Linked DNA regions of Homo sapiens: region 2 is linked to region 1. A link means that fine-mapping ties the variant in region 1 to the expression of a gene that starts in the linked region. Tissue or cell type: unexposed skin. Region 1 holds a variant in brackets; the other region holds the start of a gene. All regions are shown on one strand. Distances are from middle to middle.

What was found. PIP is the estimated chance that this variant, and not a neighbour inherited with it, causes the effect.
Region 2: CYSLTR1 starts here. The variant in region 1 is fine-mapped to the expression of CYSLTR1 in unexposed skin (GTEx, PIP 0.94).

The regions. Positions count from the first base shown.
Region 1 is chrX:78,526,771-78,535,261 of GRCh38, reverse strand. No RefSeq gene overlaps it. Among named protein-coding and RNA genes, the nearest start is that of RTL3, 130 kb to the left of the region's middle. The variant G/T (reference allele first, on the strand shown) is at 3,849.
Region 2 is chrX:78,325,338-78,330,337 of GRCh38, reverse strand. CYSLTR1 (cysteinyl leukotriene receptor 1) reads left to right here and starts at 2,727. Exons shown (of 3, transcript NM_006639.4): 1 at 2,727-3,033. RefSeq lists an enhancer at 2,506-2,555.

The DNA of each region.
Region 1 (8,491 bases):
TAGCTATTCAGAAGAAAACATACATAAAGGCCTAAATTGGGTAAACAACATTGGTAGAAGAGTGTTTCTGTGTATGGTATTTTTTTTTAATTTCCAGGGAATTATAAAGTATGTTTTTATTAATCTTCTTAAAAAGAATATCTCTCGTTTGAATAAAACCAGAATCCTGTAATTTCAGTATTGTAAGTCCTCTTAGAAATTATAGCCCAACCCTATTGATGGTACAGATGATGAATCTGAGATCCAAACAGTAGAAGGGACTCGTCTCAGGGTCACATGGCTTGTTAGTGGCTTTTGAAAAATCAAAGGTAAAGTAACTGCCTACAGGTGATCATCACAAAGATAACCCAAGAATGAACTCTTTGTGGCTATCCCCAGGTTTACAAGATGCCAAACATATTGTAGGGCACCAAAAGCAAAAACTATGCTTAATAATCTAGGTTTTTCTCTAAATTAGAAAACATCTTAAACATTCAGACATCACTGGAGAGTCTTGGTCTCAGATCTGAATCTTGAAAAACCATGACAGGCAATTTGGTCAACCAGAATTTCCATCTAAGAGCCTGATCCTATATTGCAGAAATATTTTTTGACATAGGATATTGTTGCCTTTTCTTGCTGTTTTTCTTAGCACTAGAGATCACACTCCAAATTGTTTGTAAGTCATTTTGACCTGTCATAAATAAGTGCAGAACCATGATACTTCTCTGCAGCAACTCAGACTTCATTTTGGAGTTACAGAAGCATCGTATTTAACTCAACTACAAAAAGCAGACCCAAATTTCCAGGCTAAAACCTCCTGTTCAGTATTGCTTCAGACTAGGAAAATATTGCTATTTAAAACTAACTTCTGTTATTTCTGGCTTCTGCTCAAATTACGCTTTTCACAAGAAACAAATCCTCATCCAGAAGACAGAATTAGGAATCCAGCCTGAGTGAGTAATTTGGGCCTCAGATTTTTAATCTGTAAAATAAGGCCTAAATAATAACTAATGCTCTTCTAATCTGAAATATTCTTTTTTCTTCATGTCTTGTTTTCTTACCTTCTTCAGAAATTCACTCAAATCAAAATTCTCCTTCTCAATTAATCCACTTTATATAAAATTTAAATGTACGCCTCCTCTCACTATTACATACTCTTTTTTCATGCTTTATTTGTTTCTTTGTAGAACTTATCACCACCTTACATACTACATATTTCACTTGTGTAATTATTTTCCATTCCATTCACTGGGATATGAGCTTCACAACAGCAGAGATTTTTGTTTTGTTCCATGACATGAGCCTAGGATGCTCTCTTTCATATAGTAAGTAATACATATTTGTTGAGTGAAAGAATGAATGGTTCTATTTTAAGCATAATTGAATATCTGAAATTGTGAAAGCTTCTTGTAGGTCACATTTCTGATATTGAATACAAATTTTAGTACTAAGTATATATGTCTTCACACACTTTGACATTTTATAGTCAAATGTGCACACTATATACTCATTTATACTATTTCTATTTTGAAAACCAGAAAGGTTTCTAGTATCTTTTTTTCCTAACATACTGATTGTCAAGTATAAGCTCTATTCAGTGTCAATGTTTTGGTCATAAATTCAATCCTCAAGTGTAATATAATGTCAATGAGAAAATTTTTACCACATTCTGCTTTATATTTAGTATCCAGGGACAGATGCTGGCAGAAAGTAAAGACTGCCTGTTTTTGCCTACAGAAACCTACCAATTTGACATTCTTCAGAATTAAACTTTTTTTAACTATATAAGTTTCTGGCCAGAATTCAGCATATAATCAAATTTCTATTTATTCAAGTTTAATTACAGTATCCCACTATATATGCATCTATTTTTAAATAAACTCCTTGAAACAGAGTTCAGAAAAGTGATGCTTCATGCCTCTATTTCACACATTTAAGAAAACATTTTCCAACAGTAACTGTAATGTCAAGTTTTAAGAACCAGGTAGTAGAAAAGTAAAATAATGGGAATGAAAATACAAAGTCTTAGTAGTAAATCTATACCCAAGTTAACAAGGGGAGCTATTGAAGGAGAAAGGAGTAATAAATACACAGCTCAAGGGGAATATGCAGTAAGGGCATATTTCCTTAAGAATACAAATAAGAATAAGAGATAGTCTTACCAATGGTGATTGGAAAGTTTATGGACAAATTATGTAACAGCTCAGATATCCAATGTCTTCAGAAAAAGGGTATTCCGAATATGTAATTGTCTAGAAAGTTCAGCTCCTTAAGAATCAAAATTTGCCCATAAAAATATTTTATAGGACATTTTTAAATATCTTGCTCAGTTTGCCCCTTCTTTTAAAAAGCATACTGAACATATATAATGTTTACTTTCTATAATTGAGTAGTTATAATAAAGCTAAACCCATGTTAAACTGTTTCTTTTTACCAATTCCTGGAAAATGAGTTTATGTGGAGTTGGTTTTCTATAGAGACCAGTGCAACTGTGCCTTCAGTCTGTCTCAAACAATCACAACATAAGTTTATCTTTCCCAGGATTAGCCAAATATTTAGTGTTAAGTACTGAAAATCATATACCTTTTGTATTTCATTTTTCTTTTCTCCATCTCCATCTCATAAATCATTCTTCCTGGCAATCTTCCTTTACATTAAAAAAAAAAAAAGAACCACTTAGCACTGTTTATTTCCTGGCTCTCCTCCTGGTTCTGTTTAATCTCTTAGTCAAACTCTCTGTTTAAGATCTTTCTGCCCTTCTGGCAGTAGCTGTGGTATTGGCAAGCACTGGGACAGTATTCCTGTCAAAGTAGATTTTTCTGGTGCCCAAAATGATGGAAAGTATCACCACTAACCCCTAATTTTACTTCCCCATATTCAGAGAGTAAGACTTTTAAATTTACATCCCCATTTTAGGAAGTAATAGATAAAATTAGAGACTGCTTTTGCCATTAAGCCATTTTAAGAAAGCACTTGCCTGAATTGAGCAGAGCTCCTTTAGAGGTGCTGAAAGGATGTTTCCAGGTCCTTTCTTTGATCTTCAAAGAATGAAAACAGCATTTAGGAAGAAACTTCCGGAGTCTGTGGGCTGAGACCATTTTTGTTACTTCATTCTCGTCCTCCACAGTACCTAGAAAGGAAGGAAAGGAGGAGCAAGGAAAGGTATATTTTGGATTTTGCAATCAACAAAGTCATACAAGAAAGAGAAATAAGGAAGGAAATAAAGTATTGGGAAAATTCCACTAAAAATGAGTGAGTTTCCAAGATACTTGTTTTATGCCCCCCTCCATTTCCAGCTCAAGTCCTGTCTTATTCCTCCACTAGAACTTTTCAAAACCAAATCCTACAGTACACACTCTGCCTACAAATATCTATACCCCCTTATATCATTTTTCCTCCTTTTCAATCCCCAAAAGTTCTTGTGCTCCATTTCAATGCTAGTGAGACAAATGTGACAATTAAAAAGAGGTTCCTGTTCAAGAACTTGGTCCCAGTTCTTTACTTATTAAGATAGGTCATTTGACACAAAACATGGACTAATTCTCCTACTCTGATTCACTATGTGATATATAAATAATTGGTTTTAAAAAAGTACATCCAGACAAAAAAATATGCCTGCATATAGATCCTACTTAGTGTATCTGCTTAAGGCACCTCAAGCTTTAGTCACCAAAGTAATTAGAGTTGGTATTTGGGAAAACCAGACTCCCTTGAACCATGAAAGAGATATATGAAAAAACAATAAGTGTCCATACACTCATATCTAGGCCAAATTGCAAGTGTCCATTAGTTTGGAATTCAGAGTTTGGGGATGTGGTAATAAACTCAATATTTGTGACATAGCTAAAGTATCACACAATTAGCAA[G/T]ACTTTTGCTAACTAACCCAGCACAAAATGTACTTTTCCTCTTGTAAACATTTACTTGATTATGGGTCACTTTTTATACAATGCTCATTTTTTTTACATGTCTTATCTACTCATACATATTTAAGAGATGCCCTGGGCACAGTTCATCTTGATCTCTGCCACCATAATGCCTGGAAAGTTCTTCTCAAACCATAAATACTGCTTTGCCTATTGACTCACAGGTGTACAGAATCCAAAGTGGCCAGGTAGCCATTTTAACTTTCAGCAGAGCATAAGGTCGCAGGCACAGAATGTACAAATTTTTCTAATGAATCACTAAAAGTAACAGTGAGTTTTGCCACTCTCATTTTCACTCCTTGATTCCTGAACCTACACATCTTGGCTATGGAAGAAGCAGCACCATAAATTGAATGTTGATTTACAGCATAACCAGCCTTCTGGAGAACACTGCCCCCAGCCCTGCATGGTATTGTGATTTGGGTGGCACAATAACTGAGTCTTCAAAAGGCTGTTCCACTATTCTATCAAGTCATCAACTTTAGGAGGTTGGGGAAATAATAACACCAGTGAATTCTGTAGGCACGGGCTCGTTGCTACCCTTCATTTGTTGTTAAGTGATTTCTTCATCAGAAGCAATGCTGTGTGGAATTGCATGATAGTAGAAAGGCATTCTGTAAGTCATGAATGGTAGTTTTGGTAGAAGCAGTGCATGCATCCATATCCAAATTGTTTATTCTAATGTGGTAATATATACAGCATGGAATACAATTCATCCATTAAAAAGGAATGAAATAATGTCTTTTGCTGCAAGTTGGATGGAGCTGGAGGCCATTATTCTAAGTGAAGTAACACAGGAATGAAAAACCAAAAACCGTATGTTCTCACTTATAAGAGGGAGCTAAGCTATGAGTACACAAAGGCATACAAAGTGATATAATGGACTTTAGAGACTCAGAAGGGGGAGGGTTGGAAGGCAGTTAGGGATTAAAAAAGAAAGTACACATTAGGTACAATGAACACTACTCAGGTGACAGGTACACTCAGAATTTACCACTATATAATTCATCCATGTAACAGAAACCCCCTTGTACCACAAAAGCTATTGAAACAAAAAAAAAATAAAAACAAAAACAATGTATTTATTCCAGTAAGAACAAAACACTGCCCTTTCCACAAGGAAAGTGGTCTGCTGTAACCAACCTACCAGTGGGTACTTGGCTAATCACTTCAGTAAATGGTGCCATATTGGGAGCTCAGTGTTGTTCTGTGCTGCTGACAGATGGGACACTCTGCAGTGACTGTAGCCATGTCAGCCTTGGTGAGTGAAAGTTCATGTTGCTGACCCCAGGTATAACCTCCATCCCTTCCACTTTAGCCATTTTCTTCCTAAATCCATTGGAAAATGAGAGCAGTGCCTGGGGAAAGAAGTTGACTGTTAGCCACAGATTGGGTCATCCTATCCACCTTATTAAAATCCACGTCTGCTCAGGTCACCCTTTGGTGAGCACTCACATGGGATAACAATAATTTCATGTTTTCCAATTATTAAAAAAAATTGTCTATCCAAGGGCCTTTTCCCCAGATCCCCTTGTCACTGATTTTCTAATTATGCCCTTTCCAAATCCCTGACCATCCAGCCAAACCTTTGGTCACATACCATGAATTGGTATATAATCACATATCTGGTGATATCTCCTTCCAAAAAAAGTGAACAACAAAATGCACTGCTCAAAGTTTTGCCCACTGGGAGGATTTTCCCTTCACCAGTGTCCTTCAGGGATATCCCAGAAAAGGGCTGTAGTGCTGTAGCTGTCCACTTTCAGATGGTGTCCTCATATTGTGCAGAAACATTTGTAAACCAGGACCAAGTCTTCTACTTTTATGGCAAGTGATCATGTAGAACTTTCCATGTGGCCATAGGTGCAGGCTGTGTAGAAGAAAAGGCAGTGTAGCAGGAGTAGGGACCATGGGCATTTAGGCCACTTTTTCATGTAACTTATCTATGCCTTAAGGTCTTGCTGAAACCTAATATCATACATATCACATACATTTGATAATGGAGTGTGACTATGAATGCCCAATTTTCTGGCTTGATGGGTCAGGCAATACTCAGTTTATGGTGGGCAGCTAAAGTTTCATGTAACTTGGTAGCTGACAGTTAAGCATTCAATTTCTTCTGAGGTCCAATAATAAACCAAAAGTTGTTTCTCAGAAAAGAACAGTTATCTGACAAAGATGGCCGAATTTTGTTTCAAAATCTGAAGGGTCTGTGCTGCAATTCACCTCTACAGGCCTGCCCAAGGCTCCAAACAGCATGGCTATCTGCCACTGGATAGCATCATTGGATCTGCTGAACCATATGACCCAAAAGGCAGAACAGCTCGGACCGGTTGCAGAGCTTTCTCTTGCTCTGGGTCTCACTCATAACTAGGTTTTCAGGTCCCTCAATAAATATTTCAAGTATCACACCTGAATGATGAATATATTGTCTCTAAAATCCAAAGAGGCCCAGTAGGCATTGTACCTATTTTTGTTTGTAGGAGGGGCCAGGTGCAATATTTTCTTCACTCTAGAAAGGATATCTTGACATGTACCACATCACGAGACCCCTGGAAATTTCACTGAGGTGAAAGATCCCTGAATTTTAACTGGATTTATTTCCCAACCTCTGAACATGCAAATGTCTTAACAATTAGTCTACAGTAGCTGCACTTCTGGCTCTCTGGATCCAAGGAGCACAATGTCTTCTATGTGATGGACCAGTGTGATGTCTCATGGAAGGGAAAGGCAATCAACATCCTGTTGACTAAATTATGGCATAGAGCTGGAGAGTCAATATACCCCAAAGGTAAGACAAGGAAGGTGTATTTCCAGCCTCACCAGCTGAAAACAAAATACTTCTGGTGTTTTTTACTGACAGATATGGAGAAAAAATTGCAGATGAGTAGCTGCGTATCAGTACCAAGGGACGACTTAATTTGCTCACAGAATGAAACCACATCTGGAATTGCAGCTGCAATTAGAGTCATCACCTGGTTCAGTTTACAATAATTCACTGCTATCTTCAAAGATCTGTTTTCTGAAATAGCCAAATAGGTGAATTGAATTGGACTATGTTAGGAATCACCACCCTTGCATCCTTCAGTCCTTAATGGTAGCAATAATCTCTGCAATCCCTCCAGGAATGCAATACTACTTTTTATTTACTATCTTCCTAAGTAGAAGCAGATCTTGTGGCTTCCACTTAACCTTTCCTATCATAGCAGCCCTTACTCTGCAAGTTATGAAACCAGTGTGGAAATTGTGCCAGTCACTGAGTATGTCTTTTACAATTATGCATTCTGGTACTGAAAAATAATGACAGGATGGGTTTGGTGACACACTGGACCCACTAAGATATACATGAGCTAAAACTCCGTTCATCACCTGACCTCCATAAGCCCCTACTGTGACTAGTGGATCACAGTGGCATTTTGGATCTCCTCAAATTAGTGTCAGTTCAGACCCAGTGTCTCATAATCCCCAAAAAGTCTGGTTATTTCCTTTTCCTCCATGCACAATCACCTTAATAAAAGGCCATAAGTCCCTTTGGGGAAGGCTGGGAGGAAGATAAATAGAATAATATTCTGGGAGTTTCCACTTCTTTAAGGGCACATGTTCTCCCCTTTATGTAAGTGATTCTGGGTCTGAAAACTGGATACATCCAGTTTTGATCAAAGGGCCACAATTCTATCTTTTGATAATTTTTATTAGACTTCTGTGTACTTGACTTAGAATTCTTCTGCTTATACACATCAAGTAAGAATTTATCAGACCTCCCATCTGTTGCTCATCGGGGTATTTCATGATCAACTAGCCAATGACTGACTGTGAGTCAGACTATTCTGAGTACTTCTTTGACTCAGCTGTACATTATGGTAACCATGGCCACCTTGTCTTTGATAATGAAGTGCCACCATTTGGCCCTTGCCACCTCAGGCTCCAGTACCTGATTGTATCTAAGGATCTCAGTTCAGTGGCAGCAGTTCCCACTGTAATTCCTGACCTACAAAGAGTGACCACAGAGCCCTTCAAGGATTCTGTGGCTTCTCTCATGAATTTATTTCTCACAGTCATGGTGACAGAGGTGTCTTCTGACCCTTCCTATGTGGCTGAGCAGTACTTACCTAAAAAAATCCACTCTAATATTCCAACCTCTCTAAGCCTGATTCAGCCCTGATACAACTTGTGTTCTTTTCATGTTTATCTGACACTCTTAATATCAATTACTACATATTTTCTCAGATTTCTGTCTCTATCATTTGGAAAATAATGCAGTTCTTTCTGAGCATAGCACAACTCTTTATGTGTCACACTTTTTACCTCATCCTTTGGGACCTGCTGGGACTTGAGTCTAGTTGTAGACCTAGAAGCAAAAAGGGGTAATGGGGATAGATCCAGAGGATAAATAGCAGTGTTGCAAGGCAGCTACTATAGGGGAAGCTATTGCAGTTTCCTCAGAAATAGTAGATTTAACCTCCTCAGGTGAGCATGGAAAGTTGCTTCTACTGGCAAAGAAGACTTGACTGAATTTAGAGGCTCAATGTTATCAGCTTCATCAGGATCTGCGCATATGTCCCCATGTCAATTTTGAGGATCCCATT
Region 2 (5,000 bases), 200 kb after region 1:
GGGTTGGACTAGATTTATTTATTCAACAAACCAAACAAGGCAATGAGCTAACAGCTGAGGACACAATGATGAATCAGACATGTCATACCCTCACAAATTCAATTTAATATAAAGTCTGAACCAGATGATGATTTTTCATTACCTCTTTCAGCTCTGAGTCCACATAAGCTATGAATCCTGTCACTTACGTGTGAACGCTGTTGTGACTGAAAATTCTTTATCTTGCTACCCAAGTCTTACTTCATTGAGACAGATTTCCCATCCAACTACATGTTATCCCCCCTCTCCCTCACCACTCCCTATTTGGTCTTCCTTACCTCAATAAGAAAGTAAGAACTGAAGGAGTCTGGGAAAATGAGCAAGAGTAGAGAGACAGCAGCAGACAGGTATCATTCTGGGCACTTCAACCTTTCCTAAAGTGAAAGAGAATGTGAGAGTAGATATGTAATGAAGATGGATGGATGGGAAGAGAAAAGATAAAGAGATGAAGCAAGGAGACAAGGAGTCTGATGTCATTTATAGCAAATGTGGTGTAAATTGATCCAGCTGTACAAGGCAAAGACCCATTTGGGAATGGGTGAATCACTGCCTTCCCCATTGCTCAAGAACAGAAAATTAGCTAATGAAAGAAACAGGTAGGGGAGCACAAAGAAGAACCACAGGAAACACCCTCTCTGCCACAGCTATTTCGGTGCCAACTTGAAGCTCAAGGATTGAAGGGGGCCTGCCCCTCCACGCCTGTGGGTATTTCTCATCAGGTGGTACGAGAGACTGAGAAAAGAAATGACACAGAGACAAAGTATAGAGAAAGAACAGTGGGCCCAGGGGACCGGCAGCCTCAGCATGTGAGGACCTGCACCAGCGCTGGTCTCTGAGTTCCCTCAGTATTTATTGATCATTATTTTTACTATCTTGGCAAGGGGAGTGTAGCAGAGCAACAGGTGGGGAGAAGGTCAGCAGGAAAACGTGAGCAAAGGATCTGTATCATGCATAAATTCAAGGAAAGGTACTGTGCCTGGATGTGCATGTAGGCCAGATTTATGTTTCACTTTATACAAACACCTCAGTGTAGCAAAGAGTAACAGAGCAGTATTTCTGCCAGCATATCTCGCCTCTAGCCACAGGGCGGTTTTATCCTATCTCAGAATAGAAAGAATGGGAATGGTTGGCTTTACAGGAGACATTCCATTCCCAGGGAGGAGCAGGAGACAGAAGCCTTCCTCTTATCTCAACTGCAAAGAGACCTCCCTCTTTCACTACTCCTCCTCAGCAGAGACCCTTTACGGGTGTTGTGCTGGGGTATGGTATCAAAGCAGAAACAATTTTTCCTGGTACAGATCAAAATGGAATTTCTTGTGTCTTCCTTTTCTACATAGACACAGTAACAATCTGATCTCTCTTATCCCCACAAAGGATCTAGCTCCTTTCTCTTTTCTTCATTTCCTGAGTATGAATTGCCCTTCCACTGTAGCTCAAAATGGCTGTAACATTTCAGACTGGAGGAAAAGTGATAATTCACTCTGTGTCTCACTTATAAATTTTCCTGTAGATATTTGGGGATCCAAACTCAGTTGAAGAAATACTAGTTTGAATGTCAGTTTAGTTACTAAAACTCCCTAGGAGAGGATTAGAAAGTCTAGTCTTGAATCCAAATGTTAACATCCCTTCAAATGTGGTTGGATAGCCTTTTCCTCCAACTATCACCATCACCACCACAATCCAGAACTCTGTGAAAAGAGATAAAGATTCAAGGGCCTTAAAGCGATTGTCCCAGGTTGGTTGTGAGGTAATTCTTGTACCTAAAGATACAAAATTTGAGTAAATGACTTTGTTCCTACAGCAGGTAGCAAGCCAGAAGGCTACTGCTGGGCTCATATTTTACAAGTACCTAAAACTAGTTGTTAGTTATGGGGCATGTTTACAAAGTGTTAACATCAACATATTTATGCCCATCTCCATATAGAATCTTCTTAATATAACTCAAGATAATTGATGTAACAAATTCACATCATGATCTTACCAATTTGGTTTTTAACATCAAAGTGCTGCCCCAGGCTTCAATCAGCACATACCAGACTGCTATGTCCCTTTTCTCCAGAAGCCATATTGAGCACCCCACAGCTCTAACACCTCAGAGCCTAGCCAAAGGCCAAGAACACTTGCCTGATCCCCCAAATTTCCAACACAGGACCATTGACAGCAAGCCCAGTCATTCCAGATCATCTTCAGTGGGACAAAAAAAGAAAACAACAGTTTTAATCCAATGGAGGCAATTTATTGTTATGAAGATTTCAGGAAACAAAGCTCAAAAAGGAACCAGAAAGGAAAAGGCTTTTTAGAATGTGGATAGAGCCACAAGTGTCATTAAGGAGAGAGAGAGAGAAACGGAGAGATGAAATTTATGTTACTTAAGATCAAGTTTCACATAATGCCAGTTATATTAGCATATACTGGCAGGATTATCTTTCCCCACCTACAAATAGTCTAATGACCTCACAGTCACAGAAATCACAGAGAACTAAGCTGAAGAGAGAACACTCGTCCCTGCTTCCCATCTTAGAGCAGCTGAATAATTTCCTGAGAATTCTATTCCTGAAGCTAGGAAGAAAAGTTTATTTATACATACACGCAACCTGCAAGTCTCCAGTTTCTATTCTTCCTTCCTCTTTGACCCTTCCCCTCCCCCACTTTGCACCAGAGAAGTCAGACTCCGGGAGTGCTTTAACAGTTTGAAGGCTAATCTGAAAGAGGAAGAAGAATCTGTATATCTGTATATATTGGCTAGCAAATGTGCCCTGCTCTCTCCCCTCTTAAAAATAGCAGCAACCCATCTTTGCAAAGAAGCTTGCCTATAGAGCAGGCACTCTGTGAATGGACTGTGCTTTTACGACCCTACAGGGTATCAAGATACTGTGCAGCTCGCCAACAAGGATTAATTGCAAGGACTGGTAGATCGAATTTACTGAAGACTTGGAGCTTGCTTCTGAGAACAAACGCAAAAGGACAGTAAACTGTGGACCTTGAAGTTAGCAGGTAAGGAGACTCAGTATTCAGTACTAAGACCAGAACAGTATGTAGTAAAATGTTGCTGATGGTAAATTTTAGCAAATTCCCAGGAGTTTGGGGATAAGTTATCTGCCTTGCCTGCTTTAAGTTTGGGTGCTAGTATGAATTCTTTCTGCTTTATTTCTTAGCCAGAAATCTGATAATATGATCAGTCTGTCAACAAATATTGCTCAGTGCTTCTGCTAGGGCTCAACGTGGCAAAATACAGAGGAGACACACTCCGCAAACCTCCTGTGCCTTTGTAATTTAAGCCAGAAATGTAAGATACATTTTCAAATCCCCATTTTGAGGGTTCAGTGGAGTTTCTCTAATGTAGTGACATTTTCCTTCAATATGGAAAATAAATATGTAGTAATTACTGAAGGTAAACCAGTGGAGAGTAAAATTTTCACAAGGTAGTTTCACATTTGTTATCCCACCTGAACCTTTCAACATCCTATAATTTAGACAAGGTAGGTGTTACTGTCCATGTTTATGAATGAGAAAATTGACTCAGAGAGGCTAAAAAATTTTCTTGAAACACACCGTACAACTAGAAAATGGCCAGTTCTGGCCAGAGACTGTAAAAATAAAGCTCTCTCAACTATAAATGAATAGAAGAAAATTGCATGATCTATTTAGTAACTCAGACACATCTGGTGTAGACTAAGTTTACACAGAGCCAAAGATTCATACATTTTAATAAAATCTTTAGCCAGGAACATTTTTCTACTTAGCGACAAAAAAGGCTGTTTTCAAGAGGAAACAAATGGGTTTGTAAGTTCCACCTACTGAATTCAGTGGTTCTGCTTTCCAGTATTCTGATTATTTTGAAACCTAGAGAGAAACTATGATACCATATGTCTAACAAATGATTATTTTAAAAGAAATTGTAACTAAATCTGGACTAGATTGTACACTGTTTTAAAAACAAAAATATTTATATTTTTACAATGCATTATAAAATACAAAGGACTGTATTACATTTAAAATACATTAGGAAAATTTGTTACAAGACAATTTTAACTTTATTACAGAAGTCTTAATCATTCAGAAATGTTTTCTGTTGTTGTTTTACTATTAATGGCTCAATTAGAACTAAAAGCTATCTGTTTTTACATCATAAACAACCTCAAGTGCTATATTTACATTCATCCATGATAAAAAAATTTTCCCCAGTTCCCCTAAGTATTGACTACACCAGCCAATCAGGGTTCCTCCAAATAAAATAAGTCAGTTTGGGAGCCAGTAAGCACACAGATAATGGTAGGTTAAGAAAAGTTTGCTATTTGCTTTTAGACTTAATCTAGCATGTTAGTGTATTCCTAATCAAGAATCATCAATTCTCATTTTCTACTACCTCCCCTTAATGAAATTTTGATGCATTTAGAAACTATTTATCTGTCATAAAAGCAAGACTCTTCCACAGTATAGAAAATTATAAATTTGTATTTTCAGTATAATTGACCAATAATAAAGGATAATAAAGGGAAGGTGCTGATTCTTAAGGTACATACCCAACCTTGTGAATTCAATACTATGAATGGTAACTATCATAATCTCCCAAATAACATTGCCCTGTATGGACCTCTACTTTGGTCCATTTTGTTATTCTCATGTTCCTAACACCTAACAGTGGCTGCTCTAAACTATCTTGCTGCATGGATTTCAATGGGAGAGAAACGGGGTAACTGGGATAACTGGGAGTTCACCCTTGTTTTGACATGTAAACAACTGGGTGTTCTCTGGCAAGTTAACAGCCATTAGTATTTCTTGGTTCCTTTGTGTATCTAATGCAGTAATGAGCTGATAGGAATATTTTCTAAATCTCTTAAAATGATAAATATAAAATCTGAAAGCGACTTGAAAATACAAACCACCATCAGAAGGATTTTGTTTAAATTCCATTCATTCCAGGTGGATAAACATATAACAAAACTGACTGCATGGGGAGA